Regions from separate parts of the Homo sapiens genome. Here region 2 is linked to region 1. Evidence: fine-mapped QTL for protein levels in blood plasma. A gene starts in region 1. The other region holds a variant in brackets. All regions are shown on one strand. Distances are between the middles of the regions.

Region 1 (16,339 bases):
CGGGCGTGGTGGTGGGCGCCTGTAATCCCAACTACTCGGGAGGCTGAGGCAGGAGAATGGCATGAACCCGGGAGGCGGAGGTTGCAGTGGGCCGAAATCGTGCCACTGCACTCCAGCCTGGGCGACAGAGTGAGACTCCATCTCAAGTAAAAAAAAAAAAAAAAAGAAAAAAAGAAAAAATTGTTCCTCTAGGTAGCTCCTAAAAGGATCCTGTCCAGTTGCACCCGCTTTGGGAACTGCTGCTCCACCCTGTATGATGTTGGGGTTGCTGGCCCTGCGGGTTGTCTTTGGTGCAGGCTCTTTCTGCCAGTGAGCAAAATGCATGTGTTCCTTTCGCTGTGAATTTCTTGACGGGGTAGAAGCCGAGCTCTCAACCCACTTCAACTAAAGCAGCCTTTCTATGGGTTTATGTATTTCTTCCCTGCCTATGTTTTAGTCCAGAAAACGTAAGTTCTTCTAAACTAAAACCAAAGCCAAAACCAAAAAACATGAAGGTTGACAACGATCATGCCAGGGCATAACTAAGTCACAGTCACAGTGTGGAAGACACCCACACTTGTGGGTGGGGAGAGGCTCCTTGGTCTCAGATGTGAAGTGCAAGAGGCTTTCTACTCTAATATGAAGACTCCAGGAGCCTGGGAGGGGCTGTGGCCGGGAGAGCTGAGCACCCGTGGCCGGGTGAGCTGCTGTGTTATCCATGCTCCATCCCCGACCACTGGGTCCTTGGGTAGGCCCCACCCACTCCCACTCAGTGTCCCTGACTGTGAACTATGAGACTGGGAGCTCAGGGACAACCTGGGGCTCATTGTCTGCTCTGAGGGAGCAGTGAGCGAGAAGGGTAGGGACGAGGCTGGGCCTGGGCCAGGGCACACTCTGTCCCCGCAGGCCCCTGGCTTTCTCCCAGGCTTCTGAGGCCTCCGCCCATAGCTGCATCACCCCAGGGTGCTTCCTCTGGGAGCCTTGGACATTGCCCCTCCTGCAAGAACCTCAGAAGGCCCCAATGGGAAGTTGCCTCTCATCAGCCTCTTCAGCCCAATGCAGGGCACACAGGAGGAAGGAGCAGAGGCATTTGTGGGTGGGGGAAGTACACATAGGGTTTGTGTGGGGCCACAGATCCTGCCTGGCAACTCCTGTCTGCCAAATGGGGGGTGATTATCCTGGTGAGACACATGGTAGGTGAAACTGAGCACCTACTATGTGCCCTACCAGGATAATCACCCCCATTTGGCAAATGAGGACACTGAGGCACAGAAAGGTTAAGTGATTTGCCCAAGGCCACACAGCTAGTTAGCAGCAGGTTCCACAGCTTAACTACATATGCCTCCTAAAAATGTCCTCCCATACAGCCCCTCACATCTACTGTGGCCGTGCCAAGGGGAGTTGAAGACCACAGGAGAAGACACGCACCCATTTGGCCAGACCAGGGCTGGGAGCTGGGGGTAGTTCTCAGAAGTAGAACTTGTTAGCCAGGGAGTGCTGGGGGCTGCTTCCAGACACAGGCCTGTGGAGGACCCACATCTTGCCTCCAAGGTGTGACTGGGACCACTGTAGGGCCAGGAGTGACAGGCACCCGGGGTGAAGCCCGGGCTAGGGATAGATGGCTGCCAGCCTATGTGAATAAGGACACCCCAGGGCCTCGGTGTGCGGCTGACACACTGTCCATGCCATGCCTCCAGGGCTGTCCAGGAGCCCCAGCATAGGGTTCCAGATCTCCCACCAGAGCCAGCCCAGGAACTGGACCCAGTTCCAACACCTTGGCTCCTTCCGACATGGGGACCCCCATCTATGTCCTCAGAATGCCTAGCATACAATTCTTACAGCGATGGGGCTGGAGGCCTTAGCTTAAAGGCTGTAGGGGTGTAAGGAGCGCCAGCGTGTAACGAAGGTCTCATTCCCCAGAAGGCTCTGGGGGAAGCACAGGGCAGGCGGCTGGGCTGCCTCAAGACACTGGGCCGGTTTCCCCACCTGTGAAGCGGGAGCAGCGCTGTGGGTGGCCTCCTTGCACTCATAGTGTGGCCTTCGAGGCTAGGGCTCCACAGGAAGGTGGCTGAGAGTGGATGAGGGCCTCATGGGCCCAGCACACCCTCCCACAGGGAGAGGGGAGTCCACCCTCTTCCCTGCCCAGCTCCCCCATACCCACTGGGGCTAGCCAGCCTTCCTGTGGGACAGAGGCTGTCCCCACTTCCTCCTGGTCACCCCTACCCCACACGCCCACCTCCCCTCCACAAAACACATACCCTGAGGGGCCCTCTGGTCCAAGCCTCCCCTTTCACAGGTGAATTAACTGAGGCCCAGTAAGGCCAGGGCGTTTAGAGACTCAGGGATGAAGCCACATCAGACCTCAGGTCTGGCTGAGACCAGGGCTCTGACCACCCCCGAACACGGCCTGGTGGGTTGCAGTCCAGGGGCTGAGGTGGGGGAGGAGTGGGGATCCAGTCACAAAACCCCAGGACATAGCCCACCTGGGCCGTCCCTGCCCACCGCACTGCTGGGGGGGGGGGGTGCGTTCTGGAGTCATTTGGGGAAAGGATCCCATTGGCCCTGTTTAGGGGACCTTTTCCCAGACCAAGAGTGGATTGCAATGGGGCCCTGGATCTGTCTCAGTTGCTCACCAGGGAGGGCGTGGAATAGGCTCCACAACCCCCAAACCTCGGTCCCCATCCATGCCCCGGCATCTTGGCCGGGTTGTAGGAGCGAGGGAGAACGCGACTGTAACGCGGGCGTTGAGCACCTAGAGTTCCCCTTCCTCTTCACTGAGAGCTGCGGCGGAGGCTTTAGACCGAGGAGCGAGATCTAAGGTTAAAGAAAGGGCCTCTGAGCCCAGTGTTGGCCAGAGACCCCACAGGCGGGCCGGGTTCGCCCTTTGCCTTCGGCCGCGCCCCACCCACCAGGGACAGAGTGGCCGCGGCCGAGCCGGGTCCACCCGCCGCAGCTTAGCTCCGCTCCGCCGCCCTCCCCGTCCGTCCTCCCCAGGCTCCCGTCGCCCTCGCCCACCCTGGGGCCCCCTCCCCAGATGGGAGCCCCTCCGACCCCTGCGAGGCCCGCTGGGGACCCACTTGACCGCGAGATCGTAGTGGGAGCTCGGCCAAAAGAATTCTTCGCTTTCCCTGGCCCTCAGTTTACCCATCTGGGAAGAGGGGCGTCGCGGCCGCAGAAGTCCAGCTCCGCACGCGCCAAGCGCTGGGTCTGCAGCTCCCTCGGTTCCCGCGCACCCAACTGCCCCACGACCCCTACCCGCGCCCGCAGCCCCCGCCCTCCCGCCCCACTTGCCTGGGCCGCCGGGCGCTGGAACCTGGACCCTGGACCCTGGCGGGTTCCGAGCTGCGCCGCCGCCGTCCCTGCCCCTCCAGCACTGGACTCCTCCTTTCCCGTCTTTTTAAAGGGAAGTAACCGGACCCGACCACTACTCCACCCGATTCACCCCTAGCGGGCCGCCCGCCCGCAGCTCCGCCCGGGCTCCTCCCCCGTCCGCCCGCGGCTTCCCGGGAGCCCCCCAGGGCTCCTCCGCTCCTCCGACGGCCCGGCCTTCCCCCCGGGGCCTGGGATGCACCAGGGCTCCTGCTGCCCCCGACGGGGTCCCTGTCGCCGCAGCCCGCGGGACCCGCCGGCCACATCTGGACGGCATCTGCCGCGGGGGAGGGGCTCAGAGCCTCGCCCTGAGTGTCCCGCAGGGAGCCTTGTGCATCCGGGGCAGGAAGCCAGCGCATCCCGTGCAGACGGGTGGTGCAGATAACGGACCCGCCACAGCACGCAATTCAACTTTCTTGGTACCTGGGACTCGTAGTTCAGAAGGCGCAGTAGCACGACCTTGCGAAAAAGCACCGGAGTCGGGAACACGCGCTTCTCATTTTTTTCTTTTTCCTTTATTTGTTTTTGAGACAGAGTCTCGCTCTGTCGCTCACGCTGGAGTGCAGTGGCACTTTCTCCGCTCACTGCAACTTCCTCCTCCTGGGTTCAAGCGATTCTCCTGCCTCAGCCTCCCGAGTAGCTGGGACTACAGGTGCACGCCACCACGCCTGGTTAATTTTTGGAGTTTTAGTAGAGACAGGGTTTCACCATGTAAGGCTCGTCTCGAACTCCTGACCTCAAGTGATCCGCCCGCCTTGGCCTCCCAAAGTGCTGAGATTACAGGAGTGAGCCACCACACCTGGCCTGCGCCTCTCATCTTGATCCTGCTTGCAGAGGTTGTGCAGCCACCGGAGCCCCGCCAGGGTGGGGCTCCCTGTCTCTGAGCAGCTTTAATGGGCGGTACCAGATAATATTTGTATTGGTTCCCTGTGGCTGCCGTAACACAAACATAAAACAACACTAATTTACTATCTTACAAGTTTTGTAAAATCAGAAGTCCAAAATGGGTCTCGCTGGACTAAAAGCAAGGGGGTTGAGGGATACAGCTTTCTTGAGGCTGGAAGGGAACCTGTTTCTTTGGCTTTTCTGGCTTCTAGAAGCTGCCCACATTCCTTGGCTGGTGGCCCCATCCATCTTCAAAGCCAGCAGTGGCCCACCAGTCTCTCACAATCTGTCACTCTGACACCAACTGTTCTGCCTCTTGCTTCCACTGGTGAGCATCTTTGTGATTACATCGGGCCTACCCAGATAATCCAGGGTAATCTTTCTATTTTAAATCAATGGATTGGCAACTTGAATTCCACCTGCAACTGTAATTTCCCTTCGTGGGGTAGCATAACATATTCACAGATTCTGGGCATTAGAACCAGGGCATCTTTTGAGGAGGAGGATATGATTATGTCTACCACAATATTCAAGCTGACTTCCAGACTTTCAGATTTATAATCAAATTTAAGCTCTTCCTTATCCATGATTGGAATCCTTGGGACAGTTAAAGCCTTGCACTGCATGGTCCAAATTGATGGCTTTGTGACTGGCTGTGTTTTATTATTTTACTTGCACTTGCTCTTCTTTTGGAAACTTCATGGAGGACCAGGGTACCTCTAGGTAGCAGCCTTGCTTCTCCTTCCTAATTTGCTCTGTACTCTTAAAAACCAGGTCACAAACATATCGGAATATAGAATTGTGTGTAAAGTAAGAGTAAGTAGGCTGTGAGTGAGACCTCAGAGGCTATTTTGTTTTTTTTCTCTCTCCAGTCTCATGCATGTCTGACTCTCTCCACTATCATATCTGGCATAATCTCCTCCATGTCTGACAAGCCAAGGAAAACACTACATCAGGCCAGGAGAGAATCTTCCCCCCGGAGCTCTGCCTCTCCCACCCAGGCTCCGCGGAGATTTTAAGAGGAGTAAAGATCCTGCTGTGGCAGAAGTGCAACCCAGCTTTCTGGAGGGCAGTTTGGGGTTAGGAATGAAGATCACTTTCAGAAATTTAGCCTGAAGAGGCTGGGCGTGGTGGCTCATGCCTGTAAGGCAGGTGGATCACTTGAGGTCGGGAATTCAAGGCCAGCCTGGGCAACCTGGTGAAACTGTGTCTGTACTAAAACACAAAAATCAGCCAGGTGTGGTGGCGCATGCCTGTGGTCCCACCTACTTGGGAGGCTGAGGCACGAGAATCGCTTGAACCTGGGAGGCAGAGGCTTCAGTGAGCTGAGATCACATGACTGCACTCCAGCCTCGACTACAGAGCAAGACTGTCTCAAAAAAATAAATAAATTTAGCCTAAGGAAATAGAATATTTATATGCAAGGCTTTTCACTGCAGTATTACTTATAATACTGGAAAATCAGAAATAGCCTAAGTGGGCTGGGCGTGGTGGCTCATGCTTGTAATCCCAGCACTTTGGGAGGCCAAGGCAGGCAGATTACGAGGTCAGGAGTTCGAGACCAGCCTGGCCAATGCAGTGAAACCCTGTCTCTACTAAAAATACAAAAATTGGGTGGGCATGGTGGTGGGTGCCTGTAATCCCAGCTACTGGGGAGGTTGAGGCAGGAGAATCGCTTGAACCCGGGAGGTGGAGGTTGCAGTGAGCCGAGATTGCGCCACTACACTCCAGCCTGGGTAACAGAGAGAGACTCTGTCCACCCCCTGTGAAAAAAAAGATGAAGAGACAGTGCTTGCTCCTGCAGAAAGAAAATTCATGGGCTCATAAACATGTAAAAAGATGTTCAATAACTCACTTATTAAGAAAATGAAAATTATAACTACAAAAGATACTATTCTTCACTTACCAGATCAGCAAAGATAAAAAGCAGTTTGGTAGGTCAGGCACAGTGGCTCATGTCTGTAATTCCAGCACTTTGGGAGGCTGAGGCAGGAGAATCACTTAAAACCAGGTGTTCGAGACCAGCCTGGGCCACGTGGCAAAACCCTGTCTCTACCAAAAAAAAAAAATTAGCCAGGCGTGGTGGCACGTGCCTGTAGTCCCAGCTACTTGGAAGAATGAGGTGGGAGGATTGCTTGAGCCTGAAAAGTCAAGGCTGCAGTGAGCCATGATCGTGTCACTGCACTCCAGCCAGAGCGATAGAGTGAGTCCCTGTCTCAAAAAAAAAAAAAAAAGTTTGGTAACACACTATTCGCAAGGGTGGGAGGAAAACAGGCAACCCCCTGCATTGCTGGTTGGTGTGTAGACTGACTCGACCTCAAAAGAGAATATTTGGGCAGTATTTATCAAACATATAAACACATGTCCTGTTTGACTTGGCACTTCCAGAAATTTATCCTACAGATAATGCTCACACGTAAGTGAAAGGAATACACAAGGCTTTCCACTGCATCGCTGCAACATTGAGCCAAAACCACAATGACTTTTGCACCAATCTAATAGCTGGAGACAACCTAAATGTCCACCAATAGAGATGGGATAAATGAATGATTATTGTATGCCCTGCAATGGAATGCATATGGCTATCAAAAATAACTAGGATTCTCCTTACAGAACGCTCCCCAGGACAGGTTGTTTAGTAATAAAACCTAGACGCAGAGCCGTGTTCAAGTCGTTTATCAATTGTACTTAAATGGAAAAAGCACAGAGACACACAATTTGCTTTTATATGTGCACGCGCTGATAACACGAGTTGTTTCCCAGGAAGGAAACTGGAGCTGGAGAACAGGGTGGGAAACGCATTTTTCAGCATATCCTTTTGTTCTCTTGAATCTTGAACCATGTGAATACCGTGTCTAATCAAAATATAAATAAAATTAAAAGTGAAGACGAAAGACCAGAAGATTAACAGGCTTTATAATATAATTTTTTTTTTGAGATGGAATTTTGCTCTTGTTGCCCAGGCTGGAGTGCAATGGCGCAATCTTGGCTCACTGCAACCTCCGCCTCCTGGGTTCAAGCGATTCTCCTCCCTCAGCCTTCCGAGTAGCTGGAATTACAGGCGTGTGCTACCACACCCACCTAATTTTGTATTTTTAGTAGAGACAGGGTTTCTCCATGTTGGTCAGGCTGGTCTCAAACTCCCAACCTCAGGTGATCCACTTGCCTTGGCCTCCCAAAATGTTGGGATTACAGGCGTGAGCCACTGCGCCTGGCTATAATATAAAAATTTGAATGCCAGGTGAGGTGGCTCACATCTGTAATCCCAGCACTTTGGGAGGCCGAGGCAGGGGCATCGATTGAGGCCAAGGCAACATAGCAAGACCCCATCTCTATTTTAAAAACTTTTTTTAACTTGGCTGGGCGCAGTGGCTCATGCCTACAATCCCAGCACTTTGGGAGGCTGAGTCAGGTGGATCACCTGAGGTCAGGAGTCCCGGCCAACACGGTGAAAATCTGTCTCTACTAAAAATACAAAAATTAGCCGGGCATGGTGGCAGGCACCGGTTATCCCAGCCACTCAGGAGGCTGAGGCAGGAGAATCACTTGATCCTAGGAGACAGAGATTACAGTGAGCTGAGATCGCACCATTGCACTCTAGCCTGGGCGACAAGAGCAGAACTCTTTCTCAAAAAAAAAATAAATAAAAATTATAAACTTATATTTGTGGATGAAATGATTTGATGTCTCAGGTTTGCTTTGACCTAATCCAGAAGGGGTGGAGAAGTCAGGAATGCTCAATACAGCATGATTTAAAATAGGGGAAAATCAGAAACAATTAGATGTTCAGTAATGGAGGATTGGTTAAATAAATTATGGGCTTCTATATGAAAAAAGTACTATGCTACCATTCTAAAAACAATAAATCATAGCTGGACGCGGTGGCTCACGTCTGTAATCCCAGCACTTTGGGAGGCCGAGGCAGGTGGATCACCTCAGGTCGGGAGTTCGAGACCAGCCTGACCAACATGGAGAAACCCCATCTCTACTAAAAATACAAAAATACCCGGGCATGGTGGCGCATGCCTGTAATCCCAGCTACTCAGGTGGCTGAGGCAGGAGAATCACTAGAACCCAGGAGGCAGAGGCTGCGGTGAGCCGAGATCGCGCCACTGCACTACAGCCTGGGCAACAAGAGCGAAACTCTGTCTCAAAATAATAATAATAATAATAATAATAATAAATCATATTTTAGAAGTATTGAAAGAGTACTTTCTGTTTTGTTTTGCTAATAATCGTGGAGTGGGAAGACCTTTTTAGGTATATGAAATCCATACTCCACAAATGAAAAGACCGCTACAGTTGACTACATAAAGGTAAAAATCTCTGCATTGCACAACCACCACAAGCAAAGTCAAAAAGAACCCTCCATAACAGGGGAAAATTAGCTATATGTTGCTAACTGTTGACTCTCAGAGATGGGTATATTGAGGGTTCATTATTACTGTTATTTTTTAGTGTGTTTTCAAATTTCCATAACAAAAGGAAAACTTAAATATATACAAACTTCTGTATGGCAAAAGCCAAATATTACACTGGACAATAATATTTGCAACACATATAAACAACAACAGATTAATATCAATAATGTCCTAAAAAGGTCCTACAAGGTGTTTGTAAAAGACATAAAAACAGGCCAGGCGCAGTGGCTCACGCCTGTAATCCCAGCACTTTGGGAGGCTGAGGCGGGAGGATCACGAGGTCAGGTGATCAACACCATCCTGGCTAACATGGTGAAACCCCGTCTCTACTAAAAAAAAAATAATAATAATACAAAAAATTAGCCGGGCGTGGTGGTGGTAGCCTGTTACTCCCAGCTACTTCGGAGGCTGAGACAGGAGAATGGCGTGAACCCAGGAGGCGGCGCTTACAGTGAGCCGAGATCATGCCACTGCATTCCAGCCTGGGCAACAGAGTGAGACTCCGTCTCAAAATAAATAAATAAACAAACAAACAAACATTAGGGCAGAATAGGACTTGGGAAAATAAAATAAAATAAAAACAACACAACTGAAAACCGGGCAAAGGATTAGATCTGAAACTTCACAGAGGAGGAAATTTTAAAAGCCAACTAACAGGTGAAAAGATGTTTAACCTTAGTCATACTCAGGAAACACAATTTCAAAACAATGAGATGTCAGTTTTCACTTATGATGTTGGCCAAGGTCTAGACCAACGGATAACATCTAGAGTCGGCCAGGGTGTGGGGAACTGGGATCCCCCCACAGTCCTGGGGCACATGGGAATCGCTATGAATAAAATGGCAAGCCCTATTCACAATTTAACCACAGCTACCCTTTCATCCAGTGATCCTGTTTTGGGGAATTTATCCTAAACCCAGGGAGTAACGAAACTACTGCTTAAACCATTCATGCAGGAGGAGGCTTATTAGAGCATTCCTTGTTCGAGAAGAAAAATAAGCCAAAATGTCTGTAGAGCACCCTTTAAACAAGTGAATAAAGGTCCACAGGAAACAGTGTACACAGTCACAGAGCGTGTGTGCTAACTCTGTATGTATCACCTTGGAATGATGTCTGTTCGTACATTTTTAAGTTCAAAAGCAAGTTCCAAGCAATGCATTTCATCTCACCCTCTATTACAACAGCCCCAGGGATTGTCCCCATTTTATAGAGGAAGCTGATGGCTCAGGCGTGAGTAACCACCCCAGGCCAGTGCCCAGCTTGTGTCAGACCTTCCGAGGAAGCCACATCTGTCTGACCCAGCAAAGCTGCAGGGTCCTCTCTCTGGGTGCGTCATTCGGGTGTATTGTCATGAGTGCTGGGATGAAATGGAAATGAACTTGCCAAATTATTAACCCACTCTGCCTCAGTGAGGTTGACTTGAGCCAGGGGTGGGCTGGGGGAGGGAGACAGGGGAGAGACTATCCATTTTTTCCTTATATGCTTGTTTATTCTTTGAATTGTTAGAACAAACGTGAGATTTTCATAGCAACCACCCACCACTACAAAACCATTAAAATACTGCTTAAAGGGTGAGGTGCAGTGGCTCATACCTGCAATTCCAGCACTTTAGGAGGCAGAGGAGGTTGGATTGCTTGAGGCCGGGAGTTCAAGACCAGCCTGGCCAACATGGCAAAACCCTGTCTCTACTAAAAATACAAAAATCAGCCGGGCGTGGTGACATGCACCTGTAATTCCTGCTTTTTGGGAGGCTGAGGCGCAAGAGTTGCTTGAACACAAGAGGCAGAAGTTGTAGTGAGCTGAGATCGTGCCATTGCACTCCAGCCCAGGCGACAGAGTAATACTCTGTCTCAAAAAAAAAAAAAAAAAAAAAAGAGAGAAAAGAAAAGGTGGAAGTGGGAGGGGCAGGCAGGACTCAGAATGATGCCTCCCTGCTCATCCTGCGTGGCATCCCTTGCTGCCACCTCCATCTCAGTAACTCAGCCCCACGTGGTGCTCGGAAGAGCCCTTGGGAGAGGGTGCGTGATCTCAGGGCGTGGCAGCTTAGTGGGGGACTTTCCCCAAAGACTCCTTCTCTAGGCTGGAGTCCCTTGGTGAGGACGGGAGCAGCTGTTTCTAAACCTCCCTCTCCCCACAAGCTTAAGCAGCACAGGCTGCCTGCAGGCACTTTGGTCAGCTGTGTGTATGCGTGGCTCCCGTGCACCGAGGATGACTGGTCTACCTGGGCAACAACAGCAGGGATAATAAGCTCCGTGGGCGCAGGGTTCCTGCCTGCGCTGTTTTCCACTGTATGCAGCACTTAGCACAGGACTTGGCACATATAGGGCGAACTAAAGAACCAAAGCAGGGCATGATGGTGTGCATCTGTCATTCCAGTTTCTCAGGAGGCTGAGGTGGGAGGATCGCTGGAGCCCAGGCCTTCGAGGTCAGCCTGGATAGAATGGTGAGATGACAGAAACCCCCACACTGTGACGAGGGAGGGCAGGAGAAGGTGAGTGTCCATGGGGCACTGTTGAGGAATGAGGTGCATTGTCAGATGGACAGGTGGAGGGAGGGTGTCCGTAGCAGAGGGACCAACATTTCCAAAAGCAGGGGGTCCGGTGCATGGCGAGGGGGAGGCTGGAGTGCTCAGGGACAGTGGAGCCCTGAATGCCGAGCTAGGGAATTGAGCTCTATTCCTGGGAATCCTGAATCCCTGATGAAGTTGGAGAAAAGGACACTGATGGAATTAGGTTTGCCTTTTAGAGAGAGCCCCTGGGGACAGTTTGGGGACCAGATTGGAAGGGTGCCAGGTAGGAGGCAGGAAGAGCAGTTGGTGGCGGGTGGGGGGGTGGGGTGCCCTCCAGAGACAGAAGGAGAGCAGTTCAGGGATATTCCAGAGGTGGCTTCAGGAGGCCTGGTGACCAGCAGTGGGGGAGGGAGTCAGGGGAATGGGGCACCAGGGCTGCTGCTGGGGCTGGGGAGGGCAGTGCTAGAGTCAGTACTTCCTGGCACTGAGATTTTTTTTTTCAATTTCTTATTGCTGTTGTTTTCAAGAACTCAGTTTGGATTTTATTATAAAATTGATTAAAAACACATTTTTTGGAAAAAAAAAAAAGACAAAGAGTAGCTTTTACAATGAACTTCTTTGGGAACTTTCTCAGGAAGTGGGAAAGGGCCTGTTGTTGTCCAGGCTGTGGAAGGGATGGAAAGGACCTAGAGCCCACAGAGGTCCCTGAGGTGGCAGCAGGGCAGGGCAGAGTGGGGTGGGGGGAGGAATGGACCAGGCAGGTGGGGACGCCAAGTCCCGCATGGCACCCCTCGGCGGGCTCCCTCCCCAGTGCCCCCTGGATGCCACACCTAAGCACGGATGTGGTTCCCCCAGGAGTCCCCCAGGGCAGGGCAGGGCAGGGACCCTGCAGAGGAATGCTGGGTAGGAGGCAGCTTTGTGGTCAGACAGACTTGGCTTCCTCAGAAGGTCTGACACAAGCTGGGCACTGGCCTGGGGTGGTTACTCACGCCTGAGCCATCAGCTTCCTCTGTAAAATGGGGACAATCCCTGGGGCTGTTGTAAGAATTAAATGAGAAAAATCCTGTACAGCATTTAGCAATGCCCAGCCCTTAAGAAGCCCTTGGAGAGGAGCCCCCCAGGGATTGTCTTAGTGGGTCTTTGACCAGGTGGTGTGGCTCACACCTCCAAGCTGTCCCCTCTACAGAGGGGGTTGGGTGGGGGTGGGAGAGGAGACCTCATGCCTTCCGATCTGTCCTGGGCATGAGGTCTCCTCTTCTCCATCACGGATGTCCCACCCACTCCCACGGGTTCACCATCTCCCTGGACACCATCCTCCATTTTCACCCATGGCCTAAGACGTCCTGCCCAGCCCCCTCCACAGAACCAGCTCCTTGTAGTCATCTGAACCGGGCATCCTGGGGGCTCTCAAATATACCTCCAAACCTGACCCTGCCATCCTGCCCCTACACCTTGGCCAAGGGTGCCACGCCCATCAGGCTCTTTGCCTCCCTGTCCCCTATCCAATAGGCCTCAATTCTGCTCAATTCTGCAGCCACTGCCCTGTGCTCTGCCTTAGGGGAGGACGCGGCAGCCGCTCACTGGCCACTCCAGCCTCCTAGGTGGTCCCCCTGCCCTCACCACAACCTCTGCTCCACTGGCAGCCGGACTGACCTTTTGGAGATGTCACTGTCTCCCTCTCTCTCCCCTAAATTGTTGAAAATCCTTCAGGACTCCACCAATGCCAAGGTCAAACTCCATGCAAAGCATCACGCTGCCTCCTCTCCCACCATCAATGCATCAGCCTTTCCCTGGACCTGCAGCAGCCCCCTTGCCTCTCTCCCCTGGGAGGGGGACTGGCGGCAGGCTCCCCCGCATGGAGTCTGCTCCCTCCTGAGTGTGCCCGGCACCGGCATAAGGCAGACTGCCAGTAAAAGAGGGCTGAGGACGGGCTGGTGGTGCTCGGGGGTTCTGTCACCTGAGCGGTCCCTCAGGTGGCTGCATTCCTGGAATTTCTCTTCTTCTGAGCCCTCAGGAGGCCGTAGCGGTTCCACCCACCCAACTTGGCCCATATTGCTCCAGGGCACCTGGAGAAAGGACCCCGACTGTCTTGGGAAGAGGCCCACCTGCATCTGGCCTCCCTAGCCCTCAGATCTGCATGAAACGTGGCTCCCACTACTGGCTGCCTACAGGGGAAGCGGGGCCACAGGCTGAGTGGTCACTGAAATTCACTCCAGGCTTCTGGGGGCTGGGGCCTGCACACAGCTGGAGGTTTCAGGGAAGGGTTAGGCCAGATCCCCAGTCCGACACTTGTACCTTTGAAGGGGGCAGAGCGTGGCAGTTAAGGATCAGGCTTCATATCTTGGCTGTGACACTTATTAGCTGAGTGGCCCTGGGTAAGTCACTTCTCTGTGCCTCAGTTTCCCCACCAGCAGATGGTAACGATGCTTTGCCTCTCAGGGTGGTAGTGAGCAGTGAGCAAATGCATGAGAAACGTGCCGGGCAGCAGGGCTCGGTGCATCCTGGCCATCTTATACCATCATTCCAGGCAGTTCCGGGCCTCGTAGCCTCTGACTCCATGCGTCCTCCTTCAGCCACAGTCCCAGGCCTCCTGCTCCCCATGGGGGTGGCCCAAGACCCTAGGGCTCAATGATGTAATGACAAAAGTGTTTAGCAACCGGCAGAGAGTGGGCGCAGGGTGCAGGGCGTTGGCCCTGACTTTAGCATTTACCAGTTTCCATGGTGTAAATAAATAACCCTGCCCTGTCCAATTTCAAGCTGCTGTGGATGTGGAGTTGGGAACAGATGCCCAGTGGCACACCAGGGTATGATGTCTCCACCGCACAGATACAAGAGGCGTGGATAACCCCAAAAGCAGAAATGATAGTCAAACATGTTAACATAATCAGGAAGTGGTAAGTGTTGCATATTACCTTTGCTCTTTTGACATACTTTGTGAGCATATGCAATTTAATTTTTAATGATGGCTATGCTTGACAACTGACCCATGACATTACTGAAATGTGGACAGCTGGCTCTCCCAAGCAAGTCCAAGTTGGCCCCAGCCCCCTGCGGTGCTGTTCTGTGCCGTCTCGCCCAGGGCACCAGGACCTGCTCTGAAAACTCTGTGGGGCCTGGCTTCAGCCCACCTTGTTTTCATCCCACGTGTCACTCTTTGGAACACCATGTTTAAGCAGGGGCCATCTCTGGGTTTCTTTGTGTAGCCCGTGTTCAATCCTAAGGACCCTCACTCCTGGCCCCTTGTCTGCTAGTCACCTTCCACCCAAGGTTAAAAAGCACAGGGTTTCTAGCCAGGTGTGGTGGCGTGCGCCTATAGTCCCAGCTACTCAGGAAGCTGAGGCAGGAGAATTGCTTGAACCCAGGAGGCAGAGGTTGCAGTGAGCCAAGATCATGCCACTGCACCCCAGCCTGGGTGACAGAGCGAGACTCTGTCTCAAAAAAAAAAAAAAAGCACACAGCGTTTGGATTCAGGCACACCTGGCTCCCATTCTGGACCTGACCTTTCACAGCTGTGTGACCATCAGCAAGTAAGTTAATCCCAAAGAGCCTCATTTGTCTCATCTGTATGATAGGGATAATTCACTGACAGGTCACCTCAAAAAAGTTTCCTTGAGTCTCTTGGTCGTCCCTCCCTCCCACCCGTCTCCCCAACTCCATTCCCAGGCAGCCACTCATCTGCTTTCTGTCACTATAGATTGGTTTGCATTTTGTAGAATTTTTTTTTTTTGAGACAGAGTCTTGCTCTGTTGCCCAGGCTGGAGTGCAGTGGCACGATCTCAGCTCACCGCAACCTCCACCTCCCAGGTTCAAGCGATTCTCCTGCCTCAGCCTCCCAAGTAGCTGGGATTACAGGCATGTGCCACCACGCCCGGCTAATTTTTTTTTTTTTTTTGTATTTTTAGTAGAGACGGGGTTTCACCATGTTGGTTAGGCTGGTCTTGAACTCCTGACCTCGTGATCTGCCCACCTTGGCCTCCCAAAGTGCTGGGATTACAGGTGTGAGCCACCATGCCAGGTGGACTTTTGGTTTTGTCTGCAGCCTGGCTAGTTTCAGTCTAGGCTTTCCGCCTTCCCTTTGAGCCTGTGAGAGCTTCCCCACAGCCCTTCAGCGAGTGCCTTTCTGGGTTGGTTCTCTTTGCACTGGGAATCCTGACTGGTGCAAGGGAGCCGCTGTGTTCCCATTTCCCAGCTGAGGAAACACAACAGAGAGAGGTTAGGTGTGTTGCCCAAGGTCACACAGTTGGAAGTGGCAGAGGCAGGATCAAACCAAGTTCACGTCTCCTTCAGGGCTTTAGGACTATGTATCATAGTAAAATGCCCTCTCACACACCATTCTGACCACCTGGAAGTGGGCAGATAAGGGACTGGCTCAGGGTCACACAGTGAGACAGGAAGCTGGGCCTGTGCCCCCACCACACAGTGCCTCCTGCCCTCAAGGCTGAGTAGAGCGTGGAGCTTCACGCATGTTGAGAGGGAAATGGAAGGAGTTGAATGCATTCATTGATTTGTTGAGCAATCTCGTACTTACTGACAGCTGAATATGGGTCAGGCACTGTCCCAGGCACCAGCAAGGCAGCAGCAAAACAACAGTGAAAAAGAGAGTCGACATGGCACACACTGTCATATCGGGTGACAAGCGCCACAGAGGACAAAGTGGGGTGAGGGATGGGGAGTGAGGGGAGAAGTGGCTGCTTCAGCCAGGTGGGACCGGGAAGTCCTCTGCAGGTGAAGGCTGAGAGAAGTGAGGAGCAAGGGGGACCTGAAGACAGAGGCAGAGGGGATGGCAAGACAAAGGCCCTGCGTGGGAATGAGCCCGGCAGGTTTGAGAAGCATAAAGGCCAGTGTGGCTGGAAGGAGGGAGCCAGGCAGGGGTGCAAGATGAGGATGTGGGGTGGGTGGGGGCAGCTAAGCAGGGCCTTGGGTTTCTTTGAGGCTGGTGGGAAGCTTTTGGGAGGCTTTAAAGGCTGCAGGGCAGTGGGGGTCTGATGAATGCATGAGGTGGTTCACTCTGCGGTGGAGCGATGACATGAGCCACAAGGAGACAGAGGGGGAGGCAGAGACACTGCTGAGGGGCCTGAGGGGTTGTGGTGGTGTCCGGGCAGGGACACTGGGGTGGAGGATGCAGTGGTGACATGTGGGCTCCAGGACCACTGACTATCGTGCAGGATCTGGTGCT
Region 2 (13,389 bases), 19 kb before region 1:
TAGTTTTTTCTTTTTTACTTAGCATATTCTTCACATGGCATTTTTCTCCTAACATTGTAGTGTAAGCCCCACCCCATGCTAGTAAAATCCTTTGTGGACTCTGGTTTGACATGGCAGGTTGATTTCTGTGCCCACCTGGATCCACGTCCAAATGTAAAAGGAATAAACCCCCAATAACAAAGAACAGGAGAGGCAACAGCGGATGCAAGGTCAATATAGTTTAGGCAGCTGGGACGCGCAGAAAGGGAGATGTACCAGGCTTGGCAGAGTGGGAGAATTTGCAATTGAGAATCTGCAGAAGGGGAGACAGAAGCAAGGGAACTTGCTGTGACAAGACTCAGAATTAAAGGGACAAGGCCAGGTATGGGGGCACATGCCTGTAATCCCAGCACTTTGGGAGGCTGAGGCGGGCGGATCACCTGAGGTCAGGAGTTTGAGACCAGCCTGGCCAACGTGGTGAAACCCCGAAGCTACTAAAAATACAAAAATTAGCCAGGCATGGTGGCAGGCGCCTGTAATCCCAGCTACTCAGGAGGCTGAGGCAGGAGAATCGCTTGAATCTGGGAGGTGGAGGTTGAAGTGAGCCAAGATCGGGCCACTGCGCTCCAGCCTGGGTGACAGAGTGGGATTCTGTCTCAAAAATAAATAAATAAATAAAAATAAATAAAAAAATTAAAGGGACAAGTCAGCAAGGGACAGAGGGGAGGTAAGGACTGCAAACAGGAAGATGAAGTCAAAGTCTACAGAAGGAGTCATTCAACCCCCAAGTCCCCACTTCCCTCCTTGTAGAGGGCAGCACCCCTCACCACCCCATGAGAGAGATTGAACCAGGGGGCTCAGAAAGTGGGGTCACCAGACCACAGTGGGAGGGTTGCTGGATTGCAAAGAGGGTCAGAGGTGAAAGTTTCCATACTGAAAGGTGGCACCCCAGTTCCCTTCCCTCCTGTGTCCTAGAATGGGAGTACTACCAGCCTCATTGCACAATACAGAGGCTTACTCTCTGGAAAAACTGCCTTGTCTCGAGAGAACAAACCCATGGACTAATTTTTGAGGGTCCCCAGTGAAGAGTTACTTGGCCACCCAGTCACCTCGCAATGAGATCCCCCGGACAACACACTCCACCTTCCCATGGAGCTTCCACTTGCATTTTGTTTGTGTCTGTCTCAAACCCAAAGGGGTGGCTCAGCCTCCAACTTGAAAAGAGGCCAAAACAAACACAAAACTCAAGAGGAAACGAGTCAATGGAAAAAAAAAAAAAAAGGAAAACTTCATAAGAGCCTGTAATAAATATCCTCTGAGAGTGAAGAGAAGATATTGCATAGGATGCTGGAATCAGAAAGAACACTTGGAAATTTAAAAATACGACAGAAGAAATGAAAACAATTTCTAGGTGAGGTGGTGTGCAAAGCTGAGGGAACCTCCCAGGGGGCAGAATAAAAAGTCAACAAGCTGGAAAACAGAAGAGAAAAAGAAAACTAGAGGATGAAAGCAAGAGAAATAAGCTGGATTACAGGGGTTCCAGAAAGAGATAACTGGAAAAAGTGAAGGGAATAAAGTTTAAAGAAGCAATACAAAATCTTCCAATACTAGATGATGTGAATGCCAGTCCTGATTGGAAAAGGTAGATGGAGACGAGGCCCAAACCAAGGCCCACCAGGACCGAGAGAAGCTCCCAAAGTTTCCAGAAGGGAGGAAAACTGGTCACATTCAAATAACTGGAAATAAGAATGGCTCTGGGCATCGCATCAGCAACATGGCAAGCCTGACATCAGTGGAGCAAGACCTTAAACATTCAGAGAAATAATTTCCCACCTTGAAACTTCTAAACTCAGCTGAACGCTCAATCCAGTGTGAGAGTGGAATAAAGACATTTCAGATGATCTACCCCAGAAAAGTCACCTCTCATGAACCCTTTCTCAAAAACTCCTGGAAGATGTATTCCCCTATGAGAGGGGAAAAAATCAAAGAATCCATGGGATGCAGGAAACACAGTAGAGGGAGGCACCTCCAAGCATGGGAGCTGTGTGGCAGCTCTGGAAGAGAGCAGGCAGAATAGGACTCCAGGAGGAGTCCAGTCTCAAAACTGGGCTGGGCACAGTGGCTCACGCCTATAATCATAACACTTTGGGAGGCCAAGGAGGGAGGATTGCTTGAAGCCAGGTGTTCCAGACCATCCTGGCCAATACAGAAAGATCCCATCTCTACAAAAGATGCATCTCTACAAAAGAGCATGGTGGTGCACATCTGAGGTCCCAGCTAATGGAGAGACTGAGGCAGGAGGATCCCTTGAGCCTAGGTATTTGAGGCTGCAGTGAAGCTTGATTGCACCACTGCACTCCAGCTTGGGCAAGAGAGTGAGACCTTGTCTCTAAACAAACAAACAAAAACTTGACCTATTGTGTGATACATTTGTAACTGTGTACAAAAAAGGAAACATAAACATAGTGCTCTACATGGCTCAGCAGAGAATACTATTTAGATAATCACAATAAAGCAAATGCTTAACACTGATTTGACTAAATATTATGATTTAACTACATTAGGAGGATGGGGAATGTGGGGAAAGCAGTAAGAGGGTTGAAACTTCATTTACCAAAATCTCTCATTTACCATAATGGATATTAACAGATAATTGAACTTTTTTTTTTTCTTTTTTTTTGAGATGGAGTCTTGCTCTGTTGCCCAGGCTGGAGTGCAGTAGCACCATCTTGGCTCACTGCAAGCTCCACCTCCCAGGTTCATGCCATTCTCCTGCCTCAGCCTCCCGAGTAGCTGGGACTACAGGTGCCCGCCACCACGCCTGGCTAATTTTTTGTATTTTTTTTTTTTTAGTAGAGACGAGGTTTCACCGTGTTAGCCAGGATGGTCTCGATCTGCTGACCTCGTGATCCGCCTGCCTCGGCCTCCCAAAGTGCTGGGATTACAGGCATGAGCCCCACTGCACCCGGCCTGATAATTGAACATTTTTTAATGAAAAAAGATCTCTTCAAGCATGATTTAATGACTACATATCACACCCTGAAATGGATATTCTACAGTTTAACCAATCTTCAACCTTTAGACGTTTAAGTATTTGTGTTTTGTTTGCTTTTTGTCTTTTATAAACTGCTGCAGTGAGCATCCTATGGATGTAGCTTATTCATCCAGAATAAGCTCGAGTTTCCTTTTGGTCTCCCAAGCGGGAGCCTCAGCCCTCAAATAGGCCCCTATGCTCAGCCTTAAGATACTCCAAAGCAGCCAATACCCACATCTCTCTCATAGCGCAGGTGGGCTGGCCGGGCAGGTAGAGGCCTGCCCATCTGACAGAGAAGTTAACTGGGTCTGAGAAAGGGTTGCCCAAGGCCACACAGCTGGCAAAAGACAGGTCTTCTGGCCCTCAGCATGGTGGCCTTTTCTGTGCCTTCTGAAAGCGTTAATTCCCCATATTTCAAATCAACAAACGTTGCTGAAGTCTCCGCGACCTTTATTGTTTTGCCCCACGCAGCCTCCTCACTCACCTCCTCAGTGCCTGCTCACTCACCTCCATGTCCCTCCGGCTCGCTCTTTCACCTGCGTGCTCTCAGGAGAGAACCTGACAAGGCAATCTTTCTTTTTTTTTGGTTTTTTGTTTTGCTTTTGAAGGTTCCCTGACCAGGAGTCCAGTAGGCAATAGTCTATTAACTTCCTAATAGTGCACTTTCAGGCACTGGGGCGAACTGGTTCTTGAACCCTACCATGCACCTCCGTACCTTCATGGGGCCATAGACCTCGGAGCGGTCAAACATGAGCTTGAAGTAGCTCAGGCTGCTCAGGGCGGCCTCCCAGGGCATGTACTGTCTCTCTTCAATCAGGAAGAGGGTGTTGTTCAGCGCCAGAGTGACAGGGACCTTATGGGCACTGGGAATAAACAGAGGGGCCCAAGTAAAGCACCTCCACCCAGCCCAGCCACAGCCTGGGAACCCCAACCCAGGCCCTCAAAGATGCTCCACACCCCTAGGCCCCCTGTATCCACTCCTGGAGCCGGAGGTCCCAGATTCCCAACTGAGCCAGCTCAGGCATTTGCCATGGAAAAAGAGCTACATGGCTGCTGGGTGGTGCCACAAACAAGGCCCCACCCTCACCCATTGGCAGTTCCACTCCTTTGCTTATTATCCCCATTTTACAGATGAGGAAACTGAGGCTCAGAGAAGTGAAGTGACTTGCCCAAGGTCACACACCTCACGAGAGACAGAGCTGAGATTTAAAAGGGCAAGAAGCCCGTGTTCTTAACTCTGACCACCTCTTCTGACTTTCTGGGCACTCTAGGCCTTTCTTCCTCCTGCCTTCTGTACACATTTAGCTCACAAATGTCCTTGTCTGTGGGTGACATCACTCATGTCCAAGAGCTTAGAGTACCTCACCCCAAACAGAGTAGGTGCTCAATAAGTACCTGTTTATCCATACTGCATCCCTCCTGCCCTGTCCAGCCCAGATTTTTGGCACTTAGAACAGTGGCCCAGCATAGTCAGCCTTCAGGAAAAGCTTGGTGCAGCTGGGCACGGTGGCTCACACCTATAATCCCAGCTCTTTGGGATGGCAAGGCAGGTGGATCACCTGAGGTCAGGAGTTTGAGACCAGCCTGGTCAACATGGTGAAACCCCATCTGTACTAAAAATGCAAAAATCAGCTGGGCATGGTGGCACATGCCTGTAATCCTAGCTACTCAGGAGGCCGAGAAGGGAGAATCGCTTGAATCTAGGAGGCAGAGGTCGTAGTGAGCCAAGATCACGCCACTGCACTCCAGCCCGGGTGACAGAGCAAGACTCCATCTCAAAAAAAAAAAGCGGGGGGGCATGGCCAGGTGCCATGGCTCATGCCTGTAATCCCAGCACTTTGGGAAGCCGAGGTGGGTGGATCACAAGGTCAGGAGTGCGAGACCAGCCTGACCAACATGGTGAAACCCCATCTCTACTAAAAATACAAAAATTAGCTGGGCATGGTGGTGCACACCTGTAATCCCAGCAACTCGGGAGGCTGAGGCAGAGAATCGCTTGAACCTGGGAGGTGGAGGCTGCAGTGAGCTGAGATCGCGCCACTGTACTCCAACCTGGGCAACAGAGCGAGACTCCGTCTCAAAACAAACAAACAAACAAACAAACAAACAAAAACAAAAACAAAAAGCTTGGTGCTGTGGAGTAGAGGATGGCTTTGGAGTTGGACAAGCCTCTGTCTGGCTGTCATGAACTACTGTGTGACTTCGGGCAAGGTGTCACATTCTTCATCTGTGAAATGGGTGTGTGGGGACCCAGGGAGGGACGTCCAGGGAGCACAGGAGCTCAGGGCACAGCACGTGGCATATGGGAAGGGCAGCAGGAGGAGCAGGGGCCCTCATTGTGGACTCAGACTTGCTGAAGTCACGAGCTTCTGCAGCTGAGCCAGGCAGCGGAGCACTCACCTGGCCAGGTTGAAGGCGTCATTAATGATCTGTGCCCGATTGATGACAGGGATGGCCTAGAATGCGAAGCACAGCATGTGACCATGGGTTGGCTGTGGGTGGCAGGCCTTGCAGTCTGGTGCCTGTCCTGGGGCAGGGGGCAGGGCGAGGGGTGGCAGACACTCACCGAGTGGTCTCTCTGCAGCTGAGTCTGAATCTTCCTCCAGTTCTCTTCGTCGTAGTTCACCCGGTAATAGCCCGTCACATTGAGGTTCAGCAGGACCCACTCATTGCCTGATGTGCTGAAGAGATCGTTCTGGGCTGTGGAGAGGGACGAGACCTGGGCAGGGCTGCTCAGAGGCCATGGGCTGACCCCTGGACCTCTTGCAAGAGCAGCTGCCCCCGCAGCCTGGCACCACCTCACCCTCAAGCTGCTGGGGAGACGCTAAGGGTGGGGAAGGAAGGGATGAGGAACTGGGCTGCCAGTGGCTTCACAGACCATCAACCCATGAAGATGACATGCCACCCCAAACCTCAGAACCTGCCCTGCCTCCCTAGGCTCTGCACGGCCAGGCCAGCTGCCAGGCCGCTCACACTCAGCAATCCAGGCTGTTCCTCCTCCTTGCCCTCCTCCACACTCCATCACACCTGTCACCCAAGTGGGAACCACAGGCAGCTCCTCCTCTCCCTTCCCCTCCCATTCACCCAGACCCCCAGTGCTGCTGTCTCTTTCTGGGGCTTAGTGCCCCTTCCTCCCTGTGGGTCCCCCTCCTCCCTCACTCCTCTCATACTTTGTTTCAGCAGCCAGAGGTCAGGGCCAATAGGTTGCTCATTTCCCACCTGCCCCATCCACTGTCTCCTGCAGCCCCTGGGGCCCTTGGGGACCAGCTTTATCTCTTGGGCACACCTCTGCCCTAGCTACACTCAGTCCCCACACTCTCTCCTACCTCTATCCCTGGCACTTGCTATTCCCTTTGCCTGGAATTCTTTTCTCTGCCACATTAGCCTGTCTGATTCCTACTCTTCCTCTAAGACTCAGCTCACCTCCTCCGGGAAGCCCTCCCTGACCTCTCCATGAACTTGAATCTCCCTTATTCCCTGCTCCATGTCCCCATACCTCACTAGCCCCAACCATACACTCTGAAAGCACTCAGCACAGCACTAGAATGCCTCCAACTTCTTGCCTTCCTTCATCTGTAGCCTTGGCCAAGGCAAAGGATGACTTGTCATGCCCTTCGCTTCTTCAGTGCCTTGCTGAGTAGGGCTGCTCATAACATGTGCCAGGCACTACTTTAAGCATTTTATGTGGATTCTCTCCTTTTTTTTTTTTTTTTTTTTTTGAGACAGAGTTTCGCTCTTGTTGCCCAGGCTGGAGTGCAATGGTGCGATCTTGGCTCACTGCAACCTCTGCCTCCCAGGTTCAAGCAATTCTCCTGCCCCAGCCTCCAGAGTAGCTGGGATTACAGGCATGCACCACCACACCTGGCTAATTTTGTATTTTTAGTAGAAATGGGGTTTCTCCATGTTTGTCAGGCTGGTCTCGAACTCCTGACCCCAGGTCGCCTCGGCCTCCCAAAGTGCTGGGATTACAGGCATGAGCCACCATGCCTGGCCTAGGATTCTCTCCTTTAATCCTCACATAACTAATGGAGTATTGCTCTTAGCCTCATTTTATAGAAGAGGAACTAGAGACCAGAGCGGGATGGTAACTTGCCCAGAGTCACACAGCGAAGCAGCAGCAAAGTGGAGATTGGAACCAAAGAAGTCAAGTCCATTTGTTGAATGGAATGGCCCATCACAGCCCTCAGAACATGGGCCAGGAGCTAGGAGTATGGGGTGGGGGCTGCTGCCCATAAGGCAGGGCTGGATTACCTCTTACATCT[A/T]TCAGCCAGTAGTCCTGCTGCTGTCTGCCATCTCTGATGGATGTGATGGGCACAATCCACACGTAGCTGCAATTAAAGATCCAGAGGTGGTGAGAGATGGCGGTGTGGTCACTGCCAGTGAGGAGCAGCTGCCCAGGCTCCCAGCTTCTGCCCAGCTCTGGCACCGAGTGCCCCTGAACTCCTGGCTCTGGAGGGAGGGTCTGTCTACAGTGGCTGGGGCTGGGACCACAGGAGGCCAGTCCTACTATGGTCCCTTAGTAACTGCCCTCTACCCCACCCACCTGACCATGCCTCAGTGACCCCATCTGCTCACTTGAATTCTGAGGGGCGGGTAACATTGGAATCGGGGTCAAGGAGGAAGTGCTCCTGGGAAAGGGTCCCCGTGCTGGTATCCACCGTGATGACCGGGAAGCCCATCTGCAGGGTCCAGCGGTTCATGATGTCCCGCACGGTGGTGGGGAGTTGGATGGACCGGTTGTTCACAGCCTGTGGGTGGAGCGAGAGGGCGTGGCCATCAGTGGGACCCTCCAGTCCCTGCCATCCAGGGCATCTCCTGCAGATTCTCGCCTCGACCCCGGGGGGCCACTTGTATGGGAGGCCTGGGAAGGGCACTGGGCTGGGAGCCGGGAGCCAGGGTACCGTCCAGCTCTGCCTCTCCTCGGCTGCTCAGTGCTGGACGAGCTGGAGAACTTCCCAGCAAATCTATGAGGCCCTCCATTCTGTGGTCCACCCTGAGGTGTGTATGTCAGGGAGGGGGTGCCCAGGATGCCCATGGCTCTTCCTGAACAACACTGGGAGGAGGACAAGAAAGAGGAGACAGAGATGAGAGAAAGCCAGTGTTCAGGTGTCACAGGCAGGGGTGGGGGACGGGGCCCTGGGGGTCGCATGAGGGAAGTGCACTCGGACTGGGGTGTGGGGCGGGACTCAGGGGCACTGTTGTTGTCTTCTTGTCTTCTTGGATCTTTGCTCATGCACCTGCCTTGCCTTTGTCATCACAACAGAAAGCCAACCCCATTTGTTAATAACTGAAGAAAGGAATCACCTAAGAACGGGGCCACACAGAGGGCAGAAGAGCATGTGGGGAGGAACCAGCTGGGGGCTGCCGGCCGAGGGTCTCAGGAAAGAGGAGTGAGAGGGAGGAGAGCTTGGCTTAGGAGGGAACGCAAAGGGGAAGTTGGGGCAGGGCAAGGAAGGTAGTGGGGGAGACCCAGGCAATGACAGTGTCATTTTGTCAGCAGCATCTTGGGGTCTAGGGGGTTGGAAATTGCCCAGCAGGGACCCGGACCTCAGCTGTGACTCTGTGACAAGATCCTGGGTCTCGCTTCCCTGGTGAGACAGGCCTGGACTGGAAGTGCAGCAGCAACAGTGGGGTAGAAGCTGGACGGGAATTTGAGGCTCGGAACTCTGGAGGGGCTGTCGGTGAGGAGAGGACATGTCTGTCCTCTGGCTTAAGACGCTAGCATTGGGCAGAGCTGCAGGGAAGGGGTAGGGGGCAGCTGTCAGGGAAATGATGTCAGCGGAAATGATGGGGGCAGGATGGAGAGGAGGTGGACTCCAACCCTGGGGGAGGGAGAGGAGCGGCGGCCTCTGGGGGAAGGCAGGAGGGTGTGGCAGTCTGGGGATCTGCCCTACAAACAGGGGCTGTGCGGGGTCTGATGGAGAGGAACTCGAGCCGGGGCAGGGGCAGAGGGCAGAGTTCCTGCTGAGGGTGGTGGAGCTGTGTGCAGAGACATGCCCGTGGCGCCAGCGGGGGGCACAGGGCAGCCAGGAGTGGGGAGAAGGTTGAATGTCAGGCTCCAGAGTTCCAGGCAGAGGCGGGAACCATGAGGGCAGTTTCCTCACCACCAGGAAGGGGCTCTACAGCTCCCATCAAGAAGCCCGCTGTAGCCTGAGGTCAGCTGCTGGCCAGGACCTCAACCACAGCCTCACTCAGACACCTCTTGCAAGGAGCCATCCCGGCTTCCACTATAGGGAGGAGCAACAGAGGCTCCATCCACCCTGCAGGGCTGGTCAGCCGCGGAGCTGGACCCATTCTCTTACGCATGTGCTGCCCCCAGGTACCTTCAGCATCTCAAGACCCCAACAGGATGGCTGTGGAGGGGCTGGCTGCTACTGACCTCCTGCAGGTGGTCCCACAGGTTCAGGTAGATGGTGTTCTGGTAGGCAAAGGTGTGGAGGTAGGACTGTGGAAAGACGGGGCACAGTGAGAGCACAGCTGGAGCCCCCCAGGCTCCCCCTCTGTGGTGGGCAGAGGCCCGGGTCAAGGGCGAGGGGCAGAAGGAGACCCACCCTCATGGCTGGCCCAGGGTGCAGTACTCACCGCCAGGCCCTGCTTGAATACGTCCTCGGACAGGAAGCTGGAGAGCATCCTGAGGACTGAGGCGCCCTGGGGTGGGGGTGAGGGGGCGCTCAGAAGGCTGTGCAGAGCCACCAGGACCCTGTGCCCCCAGACCCTGCCTTCAGTGAGGCCCCTCCAGGCCAAGTCCCCACCTCCTTCCCCGTGCCCCACGAGGAGCGGGCTGCACCTTGCTGTAGGAGATGGCGTCAAACAGCTCACTGATCTGGGCCGGCGTGTTGATCTCCGAGGCGGGTGTGGACAGCGGGTGGGAGGAGGCCAGTGCATCCACTGCCATCACGCGGTACACATCATTCAGCACCATGAGGTCTTTCTGCAAATTCCCCAGGGCCATCAGGAGACTGGCCTGGTAGCGGTGGCCCAGGTCTCCCTCCATGCCCCCCGCACCAGACCCCTGGGCAGCTGGCTTACCAAGTTCCAGGTGGGCTCCGCATAGTCAGCACCCAGGTACTCCACGTAGGAGGCGAAGCCCTCGTTCAGCCACAGGTCATTCCACCACTCTATGGTCACCAGGTTCCCGAACCACTGTGGGGGGAGGGGTCAGCTGGGCAAGCCACGCCCAGGCTGGGCACTGAGAATCCCCAGAACTACCCTCCCCAGGGCTGGCCATCTGCCAGGCACAGTGGGGATTTCAACACCATCGTGACCCCTTCCTGCTGCCCTGCCAGGCGGCACCCTCCTCCCTTCTCAGCAGCCCGGGGCAGAGCCTGGACTTGCGCCGTCTCCTCTCGGAGCCCCTGTTTCCTTCTCCGCACTCCCCGAGATGGGGGTCTACCTGGTGGGCCAGCTCATGAGCAATCACAGTGACCACCCGCTCCTTGTTGCTGCTGGAGGAGGACAGGGGGTCGAACAGCAGGGAGTTCTCCCGGTAGGTCACCAGTCCCCAGTTCTCCATGGCGCCGGCGTTGAAGTCTGGCAGGCCAATCTGGTCTGGGGAGGCGATGCCATTGGCAGGATGAACTCCGGGAGTGGAGCTCCATCCACTGCCTCCCTCCTCAAGGACCCCCACTCACCTGATTTTGGGAGTGGGTAGGGTGTGTCATAATGACCAGCAAAGAAGTTAAGGATGGGGCCCGTCACGTTCAGGGCATAATCGCCGTGGCCCGCCGCAATGGCACTGGGCCGGGCCCAGATCCGGATCTGCAAGGTGTGAGGAAGAAGCAGACCAGGGGCTCCTGTTTGATCCTGGGGCAGGTGGGCTGGGTCCCAGGGCCCAGTGGGCTGGGGGGATCCCTGATGGGCCAGGGCTGGAGGCCAATCAAGCTAAACCTAGAGGCCTGGTCAGCAGAGGGGAACGCTACTGGGGTCTGGAGGCTGTGGGTCCTAGAGAAGGGCCTTTGGAGAATAACAATCATCATAGCCACCGTCTGTCTGGTAACCGGTGGGTCAGGAACTCCCTTCATGAAGAGAAACCATTGTTTTCATTTTTCAGGTGCAGAAATGGAGAACCAGAGAACAAGACACTTGCCTGAAATCACTCAGAGGTGGGATTCCAACCCTGGCCTAACAATTCAGAAACTGGCACAGGGATGAAGAGAACGGGAAGACCCCTCAAGCCGGGGCCAGCCCACGTGAAGGAGAGATGGGCCCAGCCTCATACCAAGACACCATTGGATGCCTGCTTCTCCACGTAGTCGAACTCACTGACAATGAAGGCCAGCAAGTACGTGGACATCTTGGGCGTGGTGTGGAACTCAGTGACATTCCAGTTGGGGTCTTCTGGAAGTGGGGTGCTGGGACCTGGGCAGGGAGCATGTGTGTGTGAGGACGTACCCTCCTGCCCCACACCCCAGCCCAGGGTGCCTGCCCCCTGGCCCTGTGGCCGCAGGCAGGGCCCACTCACCTTTGGGAAGCATGTTGGACAGGGCTGTCAGGTCCTTGGGGTGGATAAGCGTGATGTTGAACTCGGCCTTCATGGCCGGCTCATCGAAGCATGGGAAGGACTTCCGGGCATCTGCAGCCTGCATCTGTGTAGTGGCCACCACCCTGCCCCAACAGGAAGGTTAGAGGGTGTGCCAGAGCTGGGGGTGTGGGAGGGGCTCTGAGGATGCTACCAGGCATGCAGGGAAAGGGGTACATGGAAGGCTGCCCCAGCCTAACCCCTGCTCCTGCTCCCACCCCCGCCTCGCCGGGAGCCTCCGGAGCCCTGCCAGGCCAGCTGACTCGTGGGGGTTGGGGCTCCTTCTGGATTCGGGGTGCCAGCAGGCTCTCAGGGACCTCGGGTGAGTTTCTCTCCTCTGAGCCTCGGTTTTCCTGTCTGTCCAAGGGACGCTCTGTCCCTCATCCCCAGCTCCCTGGTGAGGGGTGGGGAAGCCCTCCCAGTTCGGTGCATTTGCAGCTGCTTTGCCAGCAGCTGGAGGTGAAGCAATGGGCCAGTCTCGGGCTCCACAGGGTTCAAAGGCCTGCAAGCTAAGTCCTTCCTTGGCCCTCAGAATCCAGCCTTGCCTCAGCACCTCGGATCCACCCCACCGGGCAGCCCAGCCGGAACTCACTTTCTGACATTGCCCTCCATGTACTCGCTGCGGTAGAAGCCCGCCAGGTCATCTGCCAACTCCCCCTCGAACTCGCTGTCCATCTCATACTGGCTGTCCTTCACCAGGGAGCCCTTGAGGTGCACCACCAGGTACTCGGTGGGCTCCACCAGCTCAGTCTTGTCAATGTCGGGGGGCTGGGAGCCTCCCACACCACGCAGGACCACCCTGTGCCCCTGGCTGAGGGTGTAGTTGAGCTTCTTGCTGTGGATGATGATGACGTCAGTGGCCTCCTTGCAGGTGAAACGGACGGTGCTGGAGCCCTTAAAAACGTACAGGCCCCTGTCATTGGGGGTGAGGTACGGTCTCAGCGTCACCCGGTAGGAATCGGGTTTCAGCGTGTTGGGGAGGCGGTAACGATTCCACGCTTTACTTTGGTCCAAGGTGGTGGCCGAGGCGGGGTTGGTGGTGGCTGAGGCGGACGGGGTGGTGGAGGCCACGGGGGAGCTGTTGGCGTTCTTGTTCTTCTCCTGGGAGTACACCACTGACAGTGCGATGATTGTGCACACGGCTGCCACGCCCAGGAGGATCCCCAGGATGCCCAGGGACTTGGAAATATAGAAGCCCTTGGCCATGGTGATGGTGGGGAGGCGGCTCAGGGAGCCTCAGGCCAGGCAGAGAACGGAGCAGCCCCAGGCCGGGCTTATATCCCCAAAGGGGAGGAGCCCCACAACAGGCAGACTGGGCAAAAATTAACCAGGGCTCCAACAGGCGAAGGTCACTGGACTGGGCAGGGGCACGCTCCGCCTGGGGAGAGGAGATCCAGGAACGGTGTGTGGAGCTGGGCTCGGGGGGTGCCTGCTGGAAGCAAACAGTGTCTGGTTACAGGCTGCAGGCGGCCTGGGATCAGGCCCGAGGGCTGAAGGGCAGGCTTCCGGCTGTAGGCCCAGTGGGCAAAGCAAGCGGCCAGGTGGCATTGCATTGATCTGCTTGAGAGCTGAGAGGGTGGGAACAGCATCAGAACTGAGGTTAGAGTCAGGGAAGGACTTCCCAGGGGCAAGAGGTGGGAGGTGCACAGAGAAGGGGTTCCCGGCTCCTATTAAGAACACACTGGGGTCACCCCTTTGGTTGCATCTCTGGAAGGATGCCAGGGGCTCCTCAGTGACAAGGTCCCAGCCTCCCTTGCATTCTTCAAGAGCAGGGAGTTCCTCCAGGTTCCCCTCCCTGCCGCTTCTTGCCAAATACTTTTTCCTCCATTATCAGCTCACGGAATAAAATGAAATGAGT

Direction of the effects. Alleles are on the strand shown, and positions count from the first base shown. The strength of an association depends on the size of the effect and on how common the allele is.
As copies of A replace T in region 2, the plasma level of the protein whose gene starts at base 3,351 in region 1 goes up (moderate association).

The links. PIP is the chance, under the fine-mapping model, that this variant and not a neighbour inherited with it causes the effect. Protein levels are from antibody-based Olink assays in UK Biobank. Linkage for the fine-mapping came from a reference panel and not from the study's own genotypes, which makes the PIPs less certain.
Region 2: its variant is fine-mapped to the plasma level of the ANPEP protein (UK Biobank, PIP above 0.99). The variant lies in the coding sequence of ANPEP. If it changes the protein, the assay may bind it differently, which can mimic a change of level.

What each region holds. Positions count from the first base shown.
Region 1 is chr15:89,811,502-89,827,840 of GRCh38, forward strand. ANPEP (alanyl aminopeptidase, membrane) reads right to left here and starts at 3,351. Exons shown (of 21, transcript NM_001150.3): 1 at 3,271-3,351. LOC124903551 (a long non-coding RNA gene) reads right to left here and starts at 13,953. Exons shown (of 2, transcript XR_007064753.1): 1 at 13,459-13,953; 2 at 11,683-12,198. RefSeq lists enhancers at 2,920-3,419, 10,275-10,775, 10,776-11,276, 13,194-13,867, 13,917-13,966 and 1 more, promoters at 3,287-4,441, 3,287-3,775 and cis regulatory regions at 3,390-3,395, 3,647-3,775, 3,683-3,686, 3,685-3,714, 3,732-3,734.
Region 2 is chr15:89,793,847-89,807,235 of GRCh38, forward strand. ANPEP (alanyl aminopeptidase, membrane) reads right to left here. Exons shown (of 21, transcript NM_001150.3): 2 at 12,124-12,960; 3 at 11,475-11,617; 4 at 11,232-11,371; 5 at 10,645-10,771; 6 at 10,407-10,561; 7 at 10,043-10,156; 8 at 9,801-9,944; 9 at 9,596-9,661; 10 at 9,393-9,458; 11 at 7,589-7,761; 12 at 7,265-7,341; 13 at 5,580-5,713; 14 at 5,414-5,469; 15 at 3,729-3,876. The coding sequence starts at 12,737. Among named protein-coding and RNA genes, the nearest start is that of ANPEP, 14 kb to the right of the region's middle. RefSeq lists an enhancer at 10,092-11,291, promoters at 12,690-13,389, 12,738-13,389, 12,738-12,890, 12,738-12,852, 12,741-13,132 and cis regulatory regions at 12,838-12,841, 12,851-13,132, 12,853-12,890, 12,865-12,868. The variant A/T (reference allele first, on the strand shown) is at 7,276.